Linked DNA regions of Homo sapiens. The protein of the gene in region 2 interacts with the protein of the main gene of each other region in a pairwise test. Each region holds a gene or a part of one and is shown on either strand. Other genes may lie near its edges.

Evidence for each region.
Region 1: the proteins of KIFAP3 (region 2) and MAP3K10 interact in a two-hybrid assay, tested with the Homo sapiens proteins (one study listed by BioGRID).
Region 3: the proteins of KIFAP3 (region 2) and NAA11 interact in binary tests that used the Homo sapiens proteins (3 or more experiments, as listed by UniProt).

The regions. Positions count from the first base shown.
Region 1 is NC_000019.10:40,194,332-40,201,444, forward strand, and holds part of MAP3K10 (mitogen-activated protein kinase kinase kinase 10), read left to right. Parts: intron 1-4,043; coding exon 4,044-4,224; intron 4,225-7,113. UniProt on the Homo sapiens protein: Activates the JUN N-terminal pathway.
Region 2 is NC_000001.11:169,980,629-169,987,741, forward strand, and holds part of KIFAP3 (kinesin-associated protein 3), read right to left. Parts: intron 4,063-7,113; coding exon 3,954-4,062; intron 2,755-3,953; coding exon 2,642-2,754; intron 2,240-2,641; coding exon 2,074-2,239; intron 1,470-2,073; coding exon 1,344-1,469; intron 1-1,343. UniProt on the Homo sapiens protein: Involved in tethering the chromosomes to the spindle pole and in chromosome movement. Binds to the tail domain of the KIF3A/KIF3B heterodimer to form a heterotrimeric KIF3 complex and may regulate the membrane binding of this complex.
Region 3 is NC_000004.12:79,323,087-79,330,443, reverse strand, and holds the start of NAA11 (N-alpha-acetyltransferase 11), read left to right. Parts: upstream 1-4,382; 5' UTR 4,383-4,566; coding exon 4,567-5,256; 3' UTR 5,257-5,268; intron 5,269-7,357.

The DNA.
Region 1 (7,113 bases), on a different chromosome or scaffold from region 2:
TGGGTGACAGAGCAAGATTCCATCGCAAAAAAAAAAAGCTAACATGTGACCACGATGTGCCAGAGCTGGTGCTGTGTCTGGGGAACTGATGCTTATGCCCCAGCACCTCTGAAATGTTGGGTAAATGGAGGCAGGGCCACCCAGCATGCTCCTGTTGAAGGCTGGGACTCCTCAGCCCTTCCTCACCTCTGCTGATTGACAGCACGCCCCACACCCCCAGGTTTTTTGTAGCCAGTGCTATCTGGTCAAAGGGTCAGTGGGCCTCTTATGGCCAGGGCTTCCTCCCGGGGTGATGGGTCTGCTCTGTGCCAGAAACAGAGGACACAGCGCCTCCACAGCACTGCTTCCCCACTCATCCTACCCTAAGGAGCGCCTCATCTGCCATCATTCATTCATTGGTTCATTCCACCAGTAATTCTTAAGTGCCTACTCTTACTAGGCACTGCCTCAGCTCTGGGATTACAGAAGTGAACAAGGCAAGATTTCTCCCTCCCCCAGCTATGGAATTTATATTCCGGTGAACAGGAATAAATGATGGATAGATGGATACCAAAATTTCAGAGAGTATCAGGGGCTCTCAGTGGACTAAGGCAAAGGCTGGAGCAGAGGGTTCTCTTTATTTAGATCGGGTGGTCAGGGAAGGCAACATTTGAGCAGAGACCTGAACAAAGGGGACCCAGCTTTACAAAGATCTGGGGAAGGGGAACAGTGGGGCACATGCCCTGAGGTGGGAGTGAGTGTGTCTCACTGGAGAACAGCAAGACCAGAACAGCAGGCATTGAGGCAGAGATGGGAGGAAGTAGGATCAGAAAGGCTGGCAGGAGCCAGATCACATAGGACCTTGGGGGCCATGGTGAGGACTTGGGGTATTTTATTTGATGTAGTGGAAGCCATTAGAGGATTTGAAGCAGGGAGTGACATGATTACATAAAGATTTTGAAGGGGGACTGACTTAGGCCCAGCCTGGGAAATACAGAAATAAAGCATAAAACCATGAGATGTTCCCTCTGTCACAGGGTTTCGATACAAACAGGAGAGGTGGGGACCTAAGAAGGGAAAACTTCTGCAGAGGTGGAGTTACAGACTAGGAATTTACAGTGGGGGCTTCCAGGAGGAGGTAACACTGAAGCCCGCCCGGCCTTTTTTTTTTTTTTTTTTTTTTTTTTTTTTTTTTTTTGAGACAGAGTCATCTCACTCTGTGACCCAGGCTGGAGTGCAGTAGTGTGATCACAGCTCACTGAACCTTCCGCCTCCCGGGTTCAAGTGATCCTTCCACCTCAACTTTCCAAGTAGGCAGGGCTACAGGCGTGCGCCACCAAGCCTGGCTAATTTTTGTATTTCTAGTAGAGACGGTGGTCTTGCCATGTTGGCCAGGCTGGTCTTGAACTCCTGACCTCAGGTGATCCGCCTGCCTTAGCCTCCCAAAGTGCTAGGATTACAGGCATGAGCCACCGCGTCCAATCTGAAGCTGGGCTTTAAAGGATGGGCAGGATTATCAATTGTGTGACCCTGGGTGATTTGCCAATCTCTGCCACCTTCAGTTCCTTCATCTGCCAAATGGGCATGATAGTAGAACTACCTTACTATTATTATTATGACTGGGAAGTAGCCAGGAATGGCAAAAAGAAAAGTGGAGAAATTCGGAACAATTATGGCAATATCACACACTAATAATAACAGCTAACACTTTTAAAGGCCCTATTGCTTCAGGCAATAAATTTTTACTATAACGCTAGAAGGTAAATTCTGTTACGAGCCCCATTTCATAGAGGAGAAGTCTCGGTGTGAAGATTAAAGTAAACTGTACAGGGTTATGCACCTAGGAAGAAGCAGGGCTGAGACTCAAACCCAGGCAGCACACTGTATACTTTGGAGCCTCTATGTGATAGAAGGTAGTAAAATATCTCAGCAGTTAAGAGATTGAGCTCTGATGACAAAACTAATTCAAGCCTTTGTCCTGCCATTTTCTAACCATGTGACCTCTTGGCCAAGTGACTTCTGAGCCTCTGTTAGCTAGTCAAGAAAAATGGGTTGTGGCTGGGTGCAGTGGTTTACTCTTGTAGTCCCAGCAATTTGGGAGTCCAAGGCTGGAGGATTGTTTAAGCCCAGAAGTTTGAAGCTACAGCAAGCCATAATCACACCACTGCACTCCAGTCTGAGTGACAGAAAAAGACCCTGTCTCTTTATTTATTTATTTATTTCATTGAGATGGAGTCTCGCTCTGTCATCCAGGTTGAAGTGCAGTGGCACGATCTCGGCTCACTGCAACCTCTGCCTCCTGGGTTCAAGTGATCCTCTCACCAAAGCCTCTCAAATAGCTGGGACTCCAGGCACCCGCCACCACACCCAGCTAATTTTTGTATTTTTAGTAGAGACAGGGTTTCACTATGTTGGCCAGGCTGGTCTCGGTCTCCTGACCTCAAGTGATCCACCTACCTTGGCCTCCCAAAGTGCTGGGATTACAGGCATGAGCCACTGCTCCTGGCCAACCCTGTCTCTTTAAAAAAATAAAAAAGGGCTCGGGGTGGGGGTCATTCATGAGTCAATTCCTATAGAGAGCTTAGCACAGTACAAACACTAGCCATGATCCTCATGGCTGTTAGTGACAACCCGGGTAGAAAGTAAGCTAGAACCATCCAGTATGTTTAGGGAATACTTCAGTCAGATTTTGTCACGATCATGCTGTGTAATAAGCTACCCCCAAAACTCGGCATCTTAAAACAGCCATTGTGTATTACTGCTCCTGCATTTGCGGACCAGCTGGAGGGTAAACTGATGGAGGCTGGGCTCAGCTGGAGAGGCTTTGCTCCAAGTAGCTCTCATCTTCTTGGACAAGCAGGCTAGCTGAGGCATGTTGTCATGGTGATGACACAAGTGCAAGAGGGCCAGCAGACATGCAAGGCCTGGGCTTGGAATTGGCACCCTGTCATTCTTAGCCAAAGCAAGTCATACGGCTGAGCCAGAGTCAGGGTGCACTCTGCCTTTGTTTTTGTTTTTGTTTTTGTTTTCTCGGAGACAGAGTCTCGCTCTGTCACCCAGGCTGGAGTTCAATGGCGCAATCTCAGCTCACTGCCACCTCCACCTCCCAGGTTCAAGTGATTCTCATGCCTCAGCCTTCCAAGTAGCTGGGATTACAGGTGAGCACCATGATGCTCGGCTAATTTTTGTATTTTTAGTAGAGATGAGGTTTCACCATGTTGGCCAGGCTGGTCTCGAACTCCTGACCTCAAGTGATCCGCCTGCCTTAGCCTCCCAAAGTGCTGGGATTACAGGTGTGAGCCACCGTGCCTGGCCATACTCTGCCTCTTTAGCAGAAAGAATGGCAAAGTCTCATGGCAGAGTGTGGACACAGGAAGGGGTAGAATTGGGACCCTGACTGCAGTGTGCCACGGGGGTGATAGACACGAGGGGGAAGCCACGTTCCTCCCTTCTGCCCCAGGTTTGCACTTCCTGCTTCCAGGGTAGCTGGGAACTCAAGGCCTGGAGGACTAAGGCCTTGGCTGTTGTTTCTTTTTTTTGAGACGAGGTCTCACTCTATTGCCCAGGCTGGAGTGCAATGGCAAGACCATGGCTCACTGCAGCCTCAACCTCCCAGCCTCAAGTGATCCTCCCAACTTAGCCTCCCAAGTGGCTGGGACTGTAGGCATGCACCACCACACCCAGGTATTTTTAAAAAGTTTTTGTAGAGATGAGGTCTTGCCATGTTGCACAGGCTGGTCTCGAACTCCTGGGCTCAAGTGACCCGCTTCAGCCTTGGCTGTTGGTTCTTGACCATTCATGGAGCTCCCCAAAGCCCAGGACAGAATCAGGAGGGCAGAGGACACAGGAGGAGCTCCCTACTCCCTCATGGGAGCCTGGGACAGGGATTAGACCTGGGCGGAGGGGCTCATGGATGTTCCAGGCCAGGAAAGGACCTGCCACAGAGCGGGGCAGCCTGAGGCAGTGAGAGGAAAGACGTGTTTCTAGCTGAGGCAGCGGGCCAGAACACTTGGGTCTGCGGCGTGGCAGGTCTGGGGTGACCCACCTTTCTTCCCACCCCACAGTCCTGATCCTGGAGGCCATCGAGAACCACAACCTCGCAGACACGGTGCTCAAGATCACGGACTTCGGCCTCGCCCGCGAGTGGCACAAGACCACCAAGATGAGCGCTGCGGGGACCTACGCCTGGATGGCGCCGGAGGTTATCCGTCTCTCCCTCTTCTCCAAAAGCAGTGATGTCTGGAGGTGCTGAAAGGCGCGGCCGGGATGGCCTCTGGGGAGTAAGGGAGGGAGGAAGGGGTGAGGGCAGAGTGGGAGGGAGGGTCTCCTGCTGAAGCCAGGATCTCAGTCTGACAAAGGGACCTGCTGGCAAGGTCAGGCCACCAGACAAGTGCCAGTTACCTGTTCAGCTAGCACAAATGGCAACTAGGGGGCACACTGGATTAGAATAAAAAGCTCATAGGATCTAGAGACAAGGCCGGGCGCGGGGGCGCACACCTGTAATCCCAGCACTTTGGGAGGCCGAGGTGGGCGGATCACTTGAGGTCAGGAGTTTGAGACCAGCCTGACCAACATGGTGAAACCCCATCTCTACTAAAAATACTAAAATTACCTGGGCGTGGTGGCAGATGCCTGTTGTCCCAGCTACTCGGGAGACTGAGGCAGGAGAATCACTTGAGGCCGGGAGGCAGAGATTGCAGTGGGCTGGGATTGGCCACTGCACTCCAGCCTGGGTGACAGAGCGAGACTCTGTCTCCAAAAAAAGAAAAAATTTAAAAAAGCATAGAGACAGCACATGGATGCTAGCACTGAAAGCCCCCTCAGACACTAGCCCATGCACTGTCCCATCTGTCAGACAGGAAAATGATTAATTCACTCATTCATTCCTTCATCTAACTGCACCGGGTTCTAGGGATATAGCAGAGAAGAAAAATACATGCAATCCCTGCCCTCAGGAATAGTAAGTCAGTCAACATACAAGAAGCTCTTTTTTATAAAGCTGTTTTTTAAGAAAATTATAATTTTTAAAGACAAGTACACCAGAAAAAAGTGTTAGTACAAAGTGCGAGGAGGCTGAGAGGAAGGCACTTTAAGGGCTGGAAGACTACTTTTGGGAACGCTTCTCTGAGCAATCTGAGAAATGATACTTCATCTGAGTTCCAAGTGGCAAAAAGGAACCAGTCACGAAAAGTTTGGAGGAAGAAGGAGGTGCTGAGGTGAGCATGGTGTGTCCCAGAAACAGCAAAGAGGCCCATGTGGCTGCCACTGTGCAGGCAAGGAAGAGAGAGGTAGGAAATTATGTAGGAGAGGGAGCTGGAAGGCCCTGTGGGTGAGGGAGTGGCCTTCAGGTTTTATTCTAATGAAGTAGGAAGCCATGAGGAGCCATGTCTGAATAGAGTGGTAGCTCACACCTATAATCCCAGTACTTTGGGAGGCCAAGGTGGGAGGATCACTTGAGGCCAGGAATTTGAGACCAGCCTGGTCAATGTAGTGAGACCCCATGTATATGAAAAAGAAATTTTTAAATTAATTTTTATAAAAGGAAGTAAATAAAAACTCCTTTGGAGGCCGGGTGCGGTGGCTCACGCCTGTAATCCCAGCACTTTGGGAGGCCCAGGTGGGTGAATCCCTTGACACCAGGAGTTTGAGACCAGCCTGGCCAACATGGTGAAATCCCACCTCTACTAAAAATACAAAAATTCGGCCAGGCGCGGTGGCTCACGCCTGTAATCCTGGCACTTTGGGAGGCCGAGGTGGGTGGTTCACTTGAGGCCAGGAGTTCATTCAGGACTAGCCTGGCCAACATGGTGAAACCCCATCTCTACTAAAAATACAAAAATTAGCCAGGCATGGTGGTGGGTGCCTGTAGTCCTAGCTACTCAGGAGGCTGAGGCAGGGGAATTGCTTGACTGCAGGAGGCAGAGGTTGAGATGGCGCCGTTGCACTCCAGCCTGGGTGACAGAGCAAGACTCCATCTGAAAAAAAATACTTAAAAATAAAAGCTCCTTTGACTGTTAGGTAGAGACAGCCAATGATGGGTCTGTTGCTGTCACCAGTGAGAGTTGATGGTGGCCATGGAGACTTTCAACCCAGGACCTTCTGCTTGGTTGGAGCCAAACCTGGGTCTCCCCATTTACTGTTCCCGTCAATTCCCAGCTGAGGCTCCAGATTGTCCAAGCAGCAAATTAATGGGTATGGGACTGAGACAGATCAGACAGGAAGTCTCCAGCTCAGCCTAGAGCAGAGCAGCCCTTTGGGAGAATTTCCAACTGGCTGTACATCAGGCGTTCATTTGTGCTACCTTTTTTTTTTTTTTTTTTTTTTTTGGGACAGAGTCTCACTCTGCCGCCCAGGCTGGAGTGCAATGGCACAATCTCAGCTCACTGCACCCTCCTCCTCCCAGATTCAAGTGATTCTTGTGCCTCAGCCTCCCGAGTAGCTGAGATTATAGGCATGCACTGGCTAATTTTTATATTTTTAGTGGAGACAGGGTTTCACCATGTTGGCTAGGCTGGTCTTGAAGTCCTGACCTCAGGTGATCCGCCCGCCTCAGCCTCCTAGAGTGCTGGGATTACAGGCATGAGTCACTGCACCCGGCCGGGCAGGCTAATTCTTTCTGATGTGGTCCTGTCCTGTACTTAGCAGGATGCAGGATATCCACACCTCCCCGCCATAAACTTCAGTAACATTCTCAGTCATTATTACAATCACAGTAACCCCATAGGTTTCCAAGGACATGGGAGAGAGGGGTGGATCATGCTACCCTCCAGTTATAAACCACTGTTTCTCCCCCACCTTGTATGGTCTCCATTCTGAAGTTTACTTCATGATCCAAAATGACTGCTTGAGCTCCAGCGTTTTTTGTTTTTTTTTTTTTTTTGAGCTGGAGTCTTGCTCTGTCGCCCAGGCCGGAGTACAGCGGCGCGATCTTGGCTCACTGAAACCTCTGCCTCCTGGGTTCAAGCAATTATCCTGCCTCAGCCTCCCAAGTAGCTGGGACTACAGGCACATGCCACCAGGCCCAGCTAATTTTTGTATTATTTATTTATTTTTTTTAATTTTTCAGTAGAGACGGGGTTTCACCATATTGGCCAGGACAGCCTTGATCTCTTGACCTCATGATCTGCCCACCTG
Region 2 (7,113 bases):
TATATAGAACATTTTCATCAACTAAGAAATTTCAGAGGACAATAAATTCGGATCTAGAAGGGAATATGATGTTTAGAATCAGCTTCCAAATGGACCTTCCAACTTAGAAATCAAGTTTTAAAAAATAAGATTTGCACAAGAGAAGAGATCCAATTCAAACCAACACAAATCTCAACAGAAAGAAGTGATATAGCCGGGCACAGTGGCTCACGCCTGTAATCTCAGCACTTTGGGAGGCCGAGGTGGGCGGATCACCTGAGGTCGGGAGTTCAAGACCAGCCTGACCAACATGGAGAAACCCCATTTCTACTAAAAATACAAAATTAGCTGGGTGTGGTGGCGCATGCCTGTAATCCCAGCTACTCAGGAGGCTGAGGCAGGAGAATCGCTTGAACCCGGGAGGCGGAGGTTGTGGTGAGCCGAGATCATGCCATTGCACTCCAGCCTGGGCAACAAGAGCAAAACTATGTCTCAAAAAGTCAAAACAAAAACAAACAAACAAACAAAAAGAAGTGATATAATACAGTGGTCCTCCCTTATCTGTGGTTTTTCTTTCCATGGTTTTAGTTAACTGCAGTCAACCATGGTCAAAAATATTAAATGAAAAATCCTAGAAATAATTCATAAGTTTTAAATTATGCACAATTCTGAATAGTGTGATGTAATTTCCCACTGTTCCACTCCATCCCATCCAAGACATGAATCATCCCTTTGTCCAGTGTATCCAGGATGTACATGCCACCTGCCCATTAGTCCCTTAGTAGCCATCTCAGTTATCAGGTCCACTAGCATAGTATTGCAATGCTTGTATTCAAGTAACCCTTATTTCATTTAATAATGGCTCCAAAGTATAAGAGTAGTGATGCTAAGCATACTGTTATAATTTTTCTGTTTTATTATTAATTATGGTTGTTAATCTCTTACTGTGCCTAATTTATAAATTAAACTTTATCATTGGTATGTTTAGAAAAAAAAAGTATATATAGGGTTTGATAGTATCTGTAGTTTCAGGCATCTGCTGGGGGTCTTGGAATGTATTCCCCTTGATTAAGTTGTGACTACTATATTGGTTGTTCAAGGTTGGTGAGGAGAGTACTTCTGTAAAATTGGTCCTGAACTGCTTTACAGCAACATTCTTAACTTTGAAAGCTAAAGATCTTTGATATTACTCTATCCAATCCCAGTTAGCAGTATATTTAATTCATTTTTCTTGATTATATAAGTTGCTATGAAACAATTAATGTAATGAGAAAAACAGATTACAGACTCTGCATTTTATATTTAAATATTTAAATCAATAAGCTGTTTAGACATTAACATAAAAATAAATTAAGGTTATTTACCATTTAGCAATTCAATGAGTGCAGGGATTATGCCAGATTTGGCTAGCAATGCAGCACAAGAGTCATCCATGGATACAGTTCCAATCATTATAACCACTTCTAAAACAAGATCATCTTCTGCAGCACCTAGTGAAGTCAAACCATAGAAAGTTTTCACTGAAATGTCCTGATCCAAATTCATTTAGAGTATCAAAATGTAAATACACAGAAAGGATACTGAAAGCTATTAAATCAAGTCATATGAATCCTTGATATGCTATAAATTTGTCCTTTTTCCAAATTTCCATGTTTGCTGATGACAGTTTGTGATAGTGGGGGCAGGGGGCAGTAGAAAAGTGGAAATGAGCCTTTGAGAGTACAACTGAATGACAACATAGACACAGAAAATAAAAGACTCATTTGAATGCCTCAAAGACCTTTGTGCGTGTTTATGTATATGCAGAGGGATGGTATTTGGTAATTTTAAAGAGACAGAATAAAAAAATACCAAAAGACCACAAGAAAGGTAGAATAGGAAATAGAAACTAACATAAGAAAACACACTTTTAGGAAAAAGAGAACATATATGTAAGAGGTGATCCAGTGACTACCTTTCTGGGAGAAGAGAGCTGTGAGAAGAAATGGCTTTTCCTAACATAATAATAGTCACACAATACTGCTCTAGCAGCCTTATCCATAACAGAAAGAAATAACTTAGTGATTATACAAAAGTGAAATACTTAGCACAAACCTGGTTTTAGTTTATCCTTGAGGTATGGAACCAACTTATATTCTTTAAGAACCAATTCCCAGTCTAAGTCTGGAATGGTCAAGTTTGCAAGAGTTCCCAAACATTCAATCACAAACTCCTCTTCTTCATCATTAGAGATCTGGGCTGCAAGGTCCCCAACATAATCCTGAATAAAACATAATTTTAATATAAATTTAAATTATTTTTTATTTAATCTAATAACCCACAGGAATCTAACAATTTAACTCATTGAAAGAAAAAGTAAATATCAAATGTGATTTTCTTGTTTTAATAATCTTGAGCTAAATTGCTAAAGAAGCCTATGGTGAACTGGTTTAAGGCAAGAAGACTGTAGTGGGGTGGAGGGATTAGGGGTAAGGGTCACAAAACAAAAACAACATTGAAACATAGGTTGAGATTTCTAGGTGCTAAACTAACAAAGTTGATAACATAAGAGCAATTTGGATTATAAATTAATATTTGACGAGACCTCAGTAAGAGCTGTATTTCCAAATGTAGCAATTTCAATTCCCAGTCTATTTGAATAGAAAGCCAAAATGATACTTACAATAAACAGATTTTTAGTTGGTCCATCATGCTGAGAAATGTTTCTAATCATTTTCATCAGCAATGGATCCTTAAACTTCAGAGCCCTCTTCATGAGCATCTTCAGCCCATTTCCTGAAACAGAAAAGTCCCCCAATAAAATTAAGGTTAGCTTAAGTTTAATAATTTTTTGTTTAGTTCTCAAAAAAGCCACAACAATTTACATCTAGTAAAATGCATAACTCTTAAGGGTACAATTTGATTAATTTAGATGCAACCCATACCATATATCAACATACAGAGTATTTTCATTCCCTCCAGAAAGTTCACTTGTGCCCCTTCCCAGTCAATCCTGTTTCCCAGATATAATCACTTTTCCTCTTCCCTGTCTCATTTTTAAACATATATAAATTTTGCCTGATATAGAACTTCATATAAATAGAATCATACCATATGTGCTCTTTTGTGCCTACAATATCTACTACAAATGTTAAAAACAAAAATACTTTTGACTCAGAAAAATTGTACTTCTGGGAATTTATCCTAACAATATAAAAATGAAAATGTGTAAAGATTCAGAGAATGGGTAATTACTATAGCACTGTTTGTAACGGAAAATAAGTGGCAATGAACTATATCCATAATAGTGAAGTAAACTATGGCAAAATTCTTTAATAGACAATTTTGCAGTTATTAACAAATATGCTTTATAAAAACACTTAATCACATAAAATATTATTTCAAGATATTACTAATTTTAAAAGAATGTATCATGATATATAGACAATCACATTTTTATTTAAAAATATGCAGAAGTATTACACTAAAATCTTACCTATGATTATCTGTGGATGGTAGGAAATAAAGATTTAAATCTTTTCCTTTTTGCTCATTTGTGCTTTTTATAACAAACACATACTACTTTTCAAATAAGGCAAAAACTATCGGGCAGACTCTGAAACATCATAATGTATGACAGGCTATTCTACAAAGATATTACAGAAATAATCTAATACATTTGTATTTTATTACCTTATATTGTAATAGACTGCTTTGCAAAGAAAAAGTTTCATTTTATCTAGAAAATGTTTTAAAAATCAAATTTCAATTAAGGCTAACTCACCATGGTTTGTAAAATGTTATCAGAAGGTAAGTGTCTGCATTTATGACGTAAGAATATTCTATCTGACCTTTAAGGATTATAGCTATAATGAAGAAATTATTTGAAAACAGGACTTACATAATCATTATAATTCTTAATTCCTTATATCTATTTTCCATCATATACCAAATACCATATGCTAAAAAAGTTACCTACACTCAAAGGCACTGACCTTCACAGATAAGCTGTACATTTCTTTTGTTAGCAGCAAGATTAATGCAGAAAGAAATGAGTTCCAAGTCAATTCGTTCATCTGAACATTCAAACAGCATCTTCATTAACTAGCAAGAAGCACAGGGCACATTTTACTCAAGAAACAAAGACAAAAAACCAAACACAGAAGCAATATTTTTATCATAATGTGTTATCTTAGATTGTACATTGGGCATAATATAATTATTTACATTTCAACACATAAAACTGGCAGGCGTTCACTGTTCAACAACTGGATGAATAAACAGTTAATGAACTCTTAGATGCTCAGCATTAAATATAAACTTCTAAGTACAGTGGAGAATATAAGAGAAATATTAGATAAAACATCTGTCCTTAAATAATTAAACATATTGTTTGGAAGCAGAGCATTCCAAGCAAAGAAAATAGCTTATGCAAAGGTCACAATGCAGGAAAAAACAGTACTCTTTGAAGAATTAAAAGCAAGCAAGCATTGTTGGTGAAAGGGAAACAACAGTTTTAAGAGATAAGAAGGTAAAAACCAGATCATGCAGGGTCTTGAAGTACATGTTAAAGATTTTGGCCTTCGTGCTAAGAAGGATAATGGGAAGCTGCTAAAAGCTTCTAAATAGGAAAGTGTCAGGATAAAATTTGTGTCTCAAAAAGATTTACCCAGTGTAGAAAATAGAATAAAATTGCAAGAAAATATGGGGAACCAGGTAGGATGCTAGAGGAAAAGTCCAAGTGAGAAGATGGGTGTCTGAACTAGGTAGAGATAAAAGGATTGATTAGACATATATTTAGAAAACAGAACCAAAATGGAATGTAGTAACTGACTAGATGTTATGGTTAAAGGAGTGGAGGAGTCAAAGATGACTTCTGGATTTATGCACTGAGAAATGACATACATGGTGCTGCCAACATCTACCGAAAAGGAGAAACTAGGGTAGAAAAAAACTTTAAAGGAAAGATAGTAATTTTGGTTTTAGATATGTTGAGTTTAAGCTGCTTATGTGATAGTCTAGTGCAGGTATTCAGTAGGAAGTCATAAACACAGGCCTGAGTTTAGAAGAAATGTCTGGACTAGAGGTATAATTTTAGGAACTGGCATATATGGTTGAAAACTGAAGCTGCAGGCTAAATCCAATCACTTGGGCATGGGTATAAAATGAGAAAAAAACATTTTTAGTGATAAGAGAAAAAGAAAGAGGGTCTGAAAAACAACAGACAAAAAGGTAAGAAGGAAAAGGTAGGCTACCTATGCCATTTAGCAGTAATCTAGATTTGTCATGGTGAGAAACAGCTGCTATAATAAAGGACAAATGAACAAATTTTATGCTATGTTTTGGAGAAGCTAGTCTTCTATTATTGTCAAATCAGCAAATTAACTTAGTGTATAGTACATAAAGAGAGTTTTTTCTCAGCCCAAATTGTTAACAACAAATAGAAGTTATTCCTAAAATTTATAATATAAAAACTTACTATGTTTTATCTCAGGGCAATACCTTTTTAGAACATGTTGGATTCATGCCTTCATGAATCCAACACAGCGAATAATAAATATTTATTTATTTTAGACCTCTTTCTGTTAAATCTTGTTTTGATTACTGTTAGTTCAAGATGACTTCTGCATTTCAAAAATGATATGTGGTCAATATACAAAAATCAATCACATTTCTATGTGTTAGCAATGAACAGCTGAAAACCAAAATTAAATTTGGTTAAATTAAATTAAATAAAAAACACAATACCACTCAAATTGTTAGGTATAATTCTAAGCAAATACACTGATCTGTATGCTGAAAATTACAAAACACTGTAGCAGGTGAACGGCTGGCATGTATCATATGCTCCCCTTGAGGGCAGATCTTTAACCACAAATATTACCACTGATAGTATCTCTGGGTAAGAATCATTAATACTTAATAATGCCACAGAATAAAAAAAGATTCAAGGGCAAAAGTAAAATAATCTTAATTTACTGGATATATATTTAACAGATTTCACTACCTATCTGCCCAATAAAAATTAAATTACAAATAAAATTGCCAATAAAAATTAAATTACAAATTACCAAAAATGTAGGTGACAATCCTCTAATTAATTGCTATGTTTTCTAAACTGTAATTAAAAACCTACCATAGATTTTTTTCAATCTGAGAATCGGTTACATTGAAGCAATGTTTCAAGCAAAGTATTTATTGCTAACAAAAAGTATTTACTTCAAATCAACCTTTGTAGTATGAAAATTAGCCTTAAACACAGGGCTACAGGTCATTATTTTAGAAGGTAAATTTTCTCTAAAGTAATTTCCATATTAAATTCTACCTAGAAATAAACAATCAGAAACTAGATTTTTAGAAAATAATGCATGGCTCGAAAACTTACTCAACTCCCATTCCCCATATCGAGCTAAATTAGGACTAAATATAAATGGAATGCATAATGATATAGAATTAGTTTTTCATAATAAGAGAGATAAACATTTCAATTTTAATTAAAGCTTTCAAATTTAAAAAAGCAATGTTTAGTTCAAACTCCACATGAAAGAGTATGTCTTTAATTTGATTGCTATGATGGCACTTCAAAAGTAAGTGTAATTGCTGACAACTAGAAAATATTAAAACTAGATTTGTTCTGTTTTAACTATGTCCATTGTCATCTTTTACTAATTTACCAGAAAAGCACTAAAAGGGCTTCAGTCTGTGCGATGAAGAGGCAATAGTGTTCAATCAGACAAGTCCCATATTGAGTATCAGATACCAAAGACCCATGACTGAAATCACTGTGTCTAGACTCTCTGGCACCTGACTTCACTTATTTACCACTGACCAGAGGCCAACCCCCACAGCTCTCTGTATTCACATATAACTCTACCACCCCCATCCCCTACCCAAACATCTTTGAATGATTATACCAGAACTTTGCATGCCTCCGGAATCTCTTCTGACTGGCTACTCCCTAACTCTCCTGTTTGAAGTGATGCTCTGGTTTCTGAACTTCAGCAGATAATGGCAGGCAAGAGCAAAGGGGGCTGTCAGAAAGGACGTTTACCAGCATTCAGCTAAAAAGAAGCATGTAGATCAAAGGGGGCCATATAGGACAACTGTGGTGGAAAACATGTGGATCACTATGAAGATTCTTGCACACTGTTCTAG
Region 3 (7,357 bases), on a different chromosome or scaffold from region 2:
GAAGTTCCCTATCATCACTGTCCACTATTCAAACCCAATATTAACTTCTAAACTTTTTTTTCAAAATTATCATCTCATATTTATATAGACATGCCCTGACAGTGGCATCATGAGAAAAAAAAGTTGTTTTGGAATATGCAGTAACACGAGAATGTAGAAAATATTTTGTTATCTATATGACTGAATTTATAATCTCTGATATTGTTTATGATTATAGACAATGGAGAAAACAATGAGAATTTATCCTCTCAGTAGGTATTAAAACTGTCTGTTTGTCCTTTTATTGATAATCTTTTTATATGTTATATAATTCCTTTATAATACAGCTGTTATAAATGGTGTTGCTCTCCAAACATCTTCAGCAAGAAAATGTTTGACTCTCACTGGAGCCAAAGTAATGGCCATTTTCCCTTTCTGGGTTCAACCAGTTGCCTCTGAAAACTCTCACTCTCTCTTTTTTTTTTTTTTTTTTTTTTGAGACAGTCTTTCTCTGTTGCTCAGACTGGAGTGCAGTGGTGCAATCACGGCTCACTGCAGTCTCCACCTGCTGGGCTCAAGTGATCCTCCCACATCAGCCTCCTGAGTAGCTGAGATCACAGGTGTGCACCACTATGCTTGGCTAATTTTTTTTTTTTAACATTTGCAGGGACATGGCCCTGACACGTTGCCCATGTTGGTCACAAATTCCTGAGCTCAAGCGATCTTCCTGCCTTGGCCTCTCAAAGTGCTGGGAATGCAGGTGTGAACCACTGTACCGAGCCTGAAAACTATTTCTGTGTTTGACTTTCTTTAAGATTAGACCTCAGATTCAGGATTAAACAGAATCAAGCCAACAAACAAACAAAGCCTTACTGATTAATAGGGTGCCTTTTCTTTCCAAACTTCTTTGAACCCACAAATACTCATCTTGCTTTAATGGCTCATGGAATAAGAAAGGCAGACAAAGGAGATGACAGTAAAAATAACAGATAGTTGATATGCTTCTAATTCTTCCAAATTGGTCTATTTTGTTATGTTTTCCCCATTTGTCAGGCCTACATTTTAGGAAGTCCAGTAAAGACACAAAGGATGGCTAACCCATCATTCCTAGGGTCATTTATGAGTATTAGGTTTGTTTATTCACACATATGAAGAAAAGTTGTTCAAATGAAAGTGTTTAGGAAATGTTATATATTTTTTTCAGGTACATAATATATTCTTACAGTAAACCTGATAAAATTACTCAGGGTGAGGGGGGCAATAAAAAGCTATTTAAAAACTCTTTATAATATTTGGAATAAACTTGTTTTTTACTAGTAAGAAGAAAATTAGTTTGCAAGTCATATTGTAAAGGAAGTGTATATAGAAATTATTTATTCATCCATAGCACCACAGTGGTATGTAGAATTCATACAAAAGACAGATAAGATGTAGAAACATAAGGTTAAAAAATAACTTGACTAAGATTTGTGCAGAACCCAGGCTCAAATAATCATATGTCTTGCCCTTAGATCCTATAGGCATGAGATATAAAGCCAGTTAGGAAGATGGGAGCTTTTTCCACATGAAATATTATAGATATGACATAATACCTGACTAGAACTCCAGGAGCTCTCATTTACAAAACATTTATGTATTAGATGACTTTTTGCTAAATTTTTGCAAAATATTAATGAAGATTGCCAATGCCCTTTACTTATGATAAAAACATACCACATACAAAACTTGACAAGACATGCTAGATCGATAGTCCAGAAATTAGAGGCACATTGTAATTCATGAGAGAACATTTATACTTGACCTCAGTAGGAGGGGCCAAATTAAGTACTACTTACTACCAACACCACCTTAAGGGTCAGAGTTTTAGTTTTGGATCCATGCTTTCCACTGCAGCTGAAATGAATATGCAAATGCTGAGGATATATGATAGCAACTTCTCTGTCAAAAAAGAAGACAGCCTATCAGAATATAACCAGTTTTTGCATTTTTTGTCTTAGCTACTGTGGTCATTGCAACTGGTAGACCATTCTTCCATGACAGTGGAGTTGTCATCATATTCCTTCTACGATTTTATATGAATAAAGATCACATTATTGTATATTAAAAACCATGCTTATTACTGTTGGTTTTGGTACCATGCCTACTCTGGAATAAGTCAAGTATACTGCCCAACTCTTGAGCATTAAGTCAGCACTATTCTATGTTGAAGGATATAGTATCTGTAATGAACCTGGCTGCATTTAAATTAACCCTGTCAAAGAATACAGTGCACTCAAGTTTCAATAGTCTATGCTTTTTAAAAGAAGAACCCACTACAGAAGAATCAACAAAATGACTCTTCTGGATCATGCTTTTAGAGCTACATCACTACAAATTATAGATCCCCATCCATGGTGTCAGGCACAACATGAAAGAAATTTCTGAACGGAAATAATACTGGTGAATAACTTTTCCAATGTATACAGCCTATCAAAAAATCAGGGAGCTAAAATGCTTACGTTAAATCTTAAAAATATATTAATAGATACTGCCAATTGTCAAAATACAACAAAAATAGTGGCTATTCAAGCTATGTTTCACAGATCACATGGCTCTAGGTTACTCTAGCTATTAAAGGAGTGCGTACCCTCATTGGAAAGAAAGCTGCACACATATTCTAGATGAGTTAAGAGGGTATCCATGACCTGGCTAATTACAACATAATTCATTTTGGTACTTGAGTTCTGAGGTCTGCTAGGAAACTGGGAAGAAAGACTGTACGAGACACACAGATAATTCCATTTGTGCAAGTAGTGCTAATAAAATGTGACTTCCTTGCACTATTAAATACCCCAAATCTTGCTTTATCGAGATGGCATATGATTATTTACTTATTCTTCTTCTTGTTCTGTCACCCAGGCTGGGGTGCAGTCATGCAATCATAGTTCACTACAGCCTTAAACTCCTGGCCTCAAGTGATCCTCCTGCCTCAGCCTCCCAAGTAGCTGAGACTACAGGCATGAATAACCACACCCAGCTAAGATGACATTAAAATTTTTAAATGCATCTACAAATAAAACTTAGGATTTATGACAAAGGTAACAATGCAGTAATATGAAGAAAGGATAATAATCTTTTTTCACAAAATGGTGTAAATGGTGCTATATGAATTGTACATCCACACAGGAAAAGAATATTGGGTCCACTGATACCTTACAGCATACACAAAACTAAATTTCAGTCAATTGCAGATCTAAATATAAAATGTAAAACTAACAATCTTAGAAGAAAATATAAAAGAATGCCTTCAGTCACCATGGAGTATGCAACGATTTATTAAACAGAACACAAAAAGCATTAACCACCAAATTTTAAAACTGGAAAAATTGAACTATATTAAAATTCATGCTTGGTGTCAAAAATCACCATTAAGAAAGGGAAATATCAATCAATAGACAAGAATGATATTCATTACAAATATATCTGACAAAGGACTTATACCCAGAATATATTTTTGATAAAACTCAAAAATTAATGTGAAAAAGACACACAAGTAGAAAAATGAGCAAAAAAATCTGAGCAGCCATTTACAAAAGAGAACACAGTATGGCTAATAAGCATATAAAGTGCTCAACTTTACTACTCATCAGTGCAATGCAAATACAACCACAGTGTAATACTTCTACCCCTACAAAAGAATGGCTAAAATAAAAACAATGGGGAAATAGCAAATGCTGTTGAGAAGGTGGAGCAACCACTCTGAAAAAGTGGCAGTATTTATAAAAGTTGAACATCATTATATTCAATGACCCAATAATTCTAATCCTAGATAAATATGCATTTGTTCCAACTAAAGACAAGTCTAGAATGTTCAGCTACCCTAGGGGTACTATTCCCAAACTGAAAATGACAAAATGGCCAGTAACAGTAGAATTGATAAAAAAAATTGTGACATATTTAGGCAATAGAATATCAAACAAGGAAGAATATAAAGAACCCTCAGCTATACACGAGGTGGCTGAAACTTACAAAGAGTGACTGAAAAAACCTGACACAAAAATAATGCATGCACTATGATTCCATTTATATAAAGTCTGTCGGAAGTCTAGGTAATCGTTATTCTTGGGATGTTGGAAGCAGGTACTGGAAGGGGACAGGAGGGGGGGTTCTGGGATACAATGTTCTTTATTTTCTCTAAGTTCCTGTTATATGGGTTTCTCCAGTTTGTGAAAATTTATTCAGATGTACCCAAATCAAAAAGTTAAAACTGAAACAAAAATAATAATTGCAATGGATCGCGTTATTTAAAACAAAGGCGACCACAATGAACTCCTCTCTCCCCACCCCCTAACCCCTGCGCACGCACACGCACAATGAAGCGAAACCTCATTGGCTGGGATCAGTGACGCACTTCTGAAAGCCGCAGTTTGGCACCATCTTTTCCATCTCCTGCTCCTTCCGCCTTCCCGCCATCCGCCCTCCACACGATTCAGCCCGGTGGTGTTAGCCCCCTGGACTCGATTCCTGAGGCAAACAGTGCCCCTTAAGGTCGGCGACAGCCTCTTCTGGGTTCACTGCAGTCCAACCGGTTCCCTACCCTCTGCCATTATGAACATCCGCAACGCTCAGCCAGACGACCTGATGAATATGCAACACTGCAACCTCCTTTGCCTTCCTGAGAACTACCAGATGAAATACTATTTATATCATGGCCTTTCCTGGCCCCAGCTTTCTTACATCGCTGAGGATGAGGACGGGAAGATTGTGGGCTATGTTCTGGCCAAAATGGAGGAGGAACCAGATGATGTCCCGCATGGCCATATCACCTCACTGGCCGTGAAGCGTTCACACCGGCGCCTCGGCCTGGCCCAGAAGCTGATGGACCAGGCCTCCAGGGCCATGATAGAGAACTTTAACGCCAAATACGTGTCTCTGCACGTCAGGAAGAGTAACCGGCCAGCCTTGCACCTTTATTCTAACACCCTCAACTTTCAGATTAGTGAGGTGGAACCTAAATACTATGCAGATGGGGAAGATGCTTATGCTATGAAGCGGGATCTCTCGCAGATGGCAGATGAGCTGAGACGACAAATGGACCTGAAGAAGGGCGGGTATGTGGTCCTGGGCTCCAGGGAGAACCAGGAGACCCAGGGCAGCACACTTTCTGATTCTGAAGAGGCCTGTCAGCAAAAGAACCCGGCTACCGAAGAAAGTGGCAGTGACAGCAAAGAACCTAAGGAGTCTGTGGAGAGCACCAACGTCCAGGACAGCTCAGAAAGCTCGGATTCCACCTCCTAGAGCATGCTTAAGGTATTCTGTCTTCCCTGACCCAGTACCCCCTTCTCCTAAATCCCTGCATCCTGCCTTGGCCTGCCCAATTCCATCCTGTCTTACCCCATTCTGGCCCTGCGAGATTTTACGGTAAAAACCACCTGGTGACCTTAGGGAGAAGTTAGAGTGAGTTGAGGGAGACTCATTACACGCTATTGGAAGTTAAATAGGATACCAGCTCATGCTGAAAGTAGATTAATTTCAATGAAGAAACAAGCATTTATCCTGCTTTTTGGGCATGAGTTGTATTTCAGGGTAACCACGTAGTTGATGAAAGGCATTTTTTTCTTTATGGAATTCCAGTTAGTAATAATGATAGAAATATAAAATCATCATTTTCCAACTCTTGATGAAATAATGGACCCAGCCAAGAGTCATCAATGGCTAATAGCATTAGGTAAAAGTTGGAGCACTTTGTAATGATGGATCAGACTGACAACACTTGAAGTCAGTGTAGTCAGTCTTCACTAAACGTGGAGACAAATATGTGTCTCCTTATGCAACAGGAAGTGCACAGTACTACCTATGAAATATTCTTTCCAAAAGAAAATTATGAGATCTGACTACCATTTTACAGAAAATAGAGGGACTTGTTAAACTATACCATGATGCAAACAGCCAAATCCAGAATGAGAGGTTTTTACAAAACAAATGACCTGGTTTCTTCAACAAATAAATGGCACACACACAAAAAAAGATGAAGCATTTTCTGTTAAACTTTACAGATACATTAAACTCAACTGCTATGGACATTGTTTGGATACTGATTCAAACAAACCATGTATAAGACATTTTTGAGATAATCAGGCAAAATTTGAACGGGGACTATATTAAGGAATTACTAATAATTTTATTAGAGGAGCTAAATGGTATTGTATTATGTTTAGAAAGTCCTTATCTGTTAAAGATACATACAGAAATAATTATAGCTGAAATAATAGGATGCCTAGGATTTCCTTTAAAATAATCCAGCAAAAAAAGAAGAAAAAGATTGAAAGAGGGAAAATGAAATAAGAATGGCAATGATAATTGTTGGGTTGGGAAATGGGTACTTAGGGGGTTCCTTATGCCATTTACTCTTTCGAATGTGTGAAAATTAGCATGAAAAGTTAAAGAGCCAAAACAATTACTGTACTTTTTTTTTTTTTTTTTGAGACAGAGTCTCGTTCTGTCGCCCAGGCTGGAGTGCAGTGGCGCGATCTCGGCTCACTGCAACCTCCACGTCCTGGGTTCAAGCTATTCTCCTGCCTCAGCCTCCCAAGTAACTGGGACTACAGGCGCCCGCCACCTCGCCTGGCTAATTTTTGTATTTTTGTATCTTTTTTTCTTTTTTTGAGATGGAGTCTAGCTCTGTCGCCGAGGCTGGAGTGCCGTGGCACTGTCTTGGCTCACTGCAAGCTCCGCCTCCCGGGTTCACGCCATTCCGCTGCCTCAGCCTCCCGAGTAGCTGGGACTACAGGCGCCTGCCACCACGCCTGGCTAATTTTTTTGTATTTTTAGTAGAGACGGGGTTTCACTGTGTTAGCCAGGATGGTCTTGATCTCCTGACCTCGTGATGCGTCCGCCTCGGCCTCCCAAAGTGCTGGGGTTACAGGCATGAGCCACCGTGCCCGGCCTAATTTTTGTATTTTTAGTAGAGACAGAGTTTCAGCATATTGGCCAGGCTGGTCTCGAACTCCTGACCTTGTGATCTGCCTGCCTCAGCCCCCCAAAGTGCTGCGATTACAGGCGTGAGCCACCGCGCCCAGCTCTTGTACTTCTTAATACACACTTATGCTAATACTAAGAAACCACTGAAACTAAGTTTTAAAGGATTGGTATGTTAGAAACAACTTAATTGTAATAATATACCACAGTATTTCTTCCATCAAAGGACTTTGTATCGCCTTAGGAATTTCAAGGGTCGGTGAGCTACTGGCAGTTTACAGGCTTTAACATCTTAATCTAGTCACCTTACCCTTACATGTATGAAAGGCAGCAACTTCTCATGGCAAAGTCTAGTCATAAATAGTGTATTCTGTATATAATTTCAGTAAGTGCTATTTGATTAGTCTACTCATTCATAAAA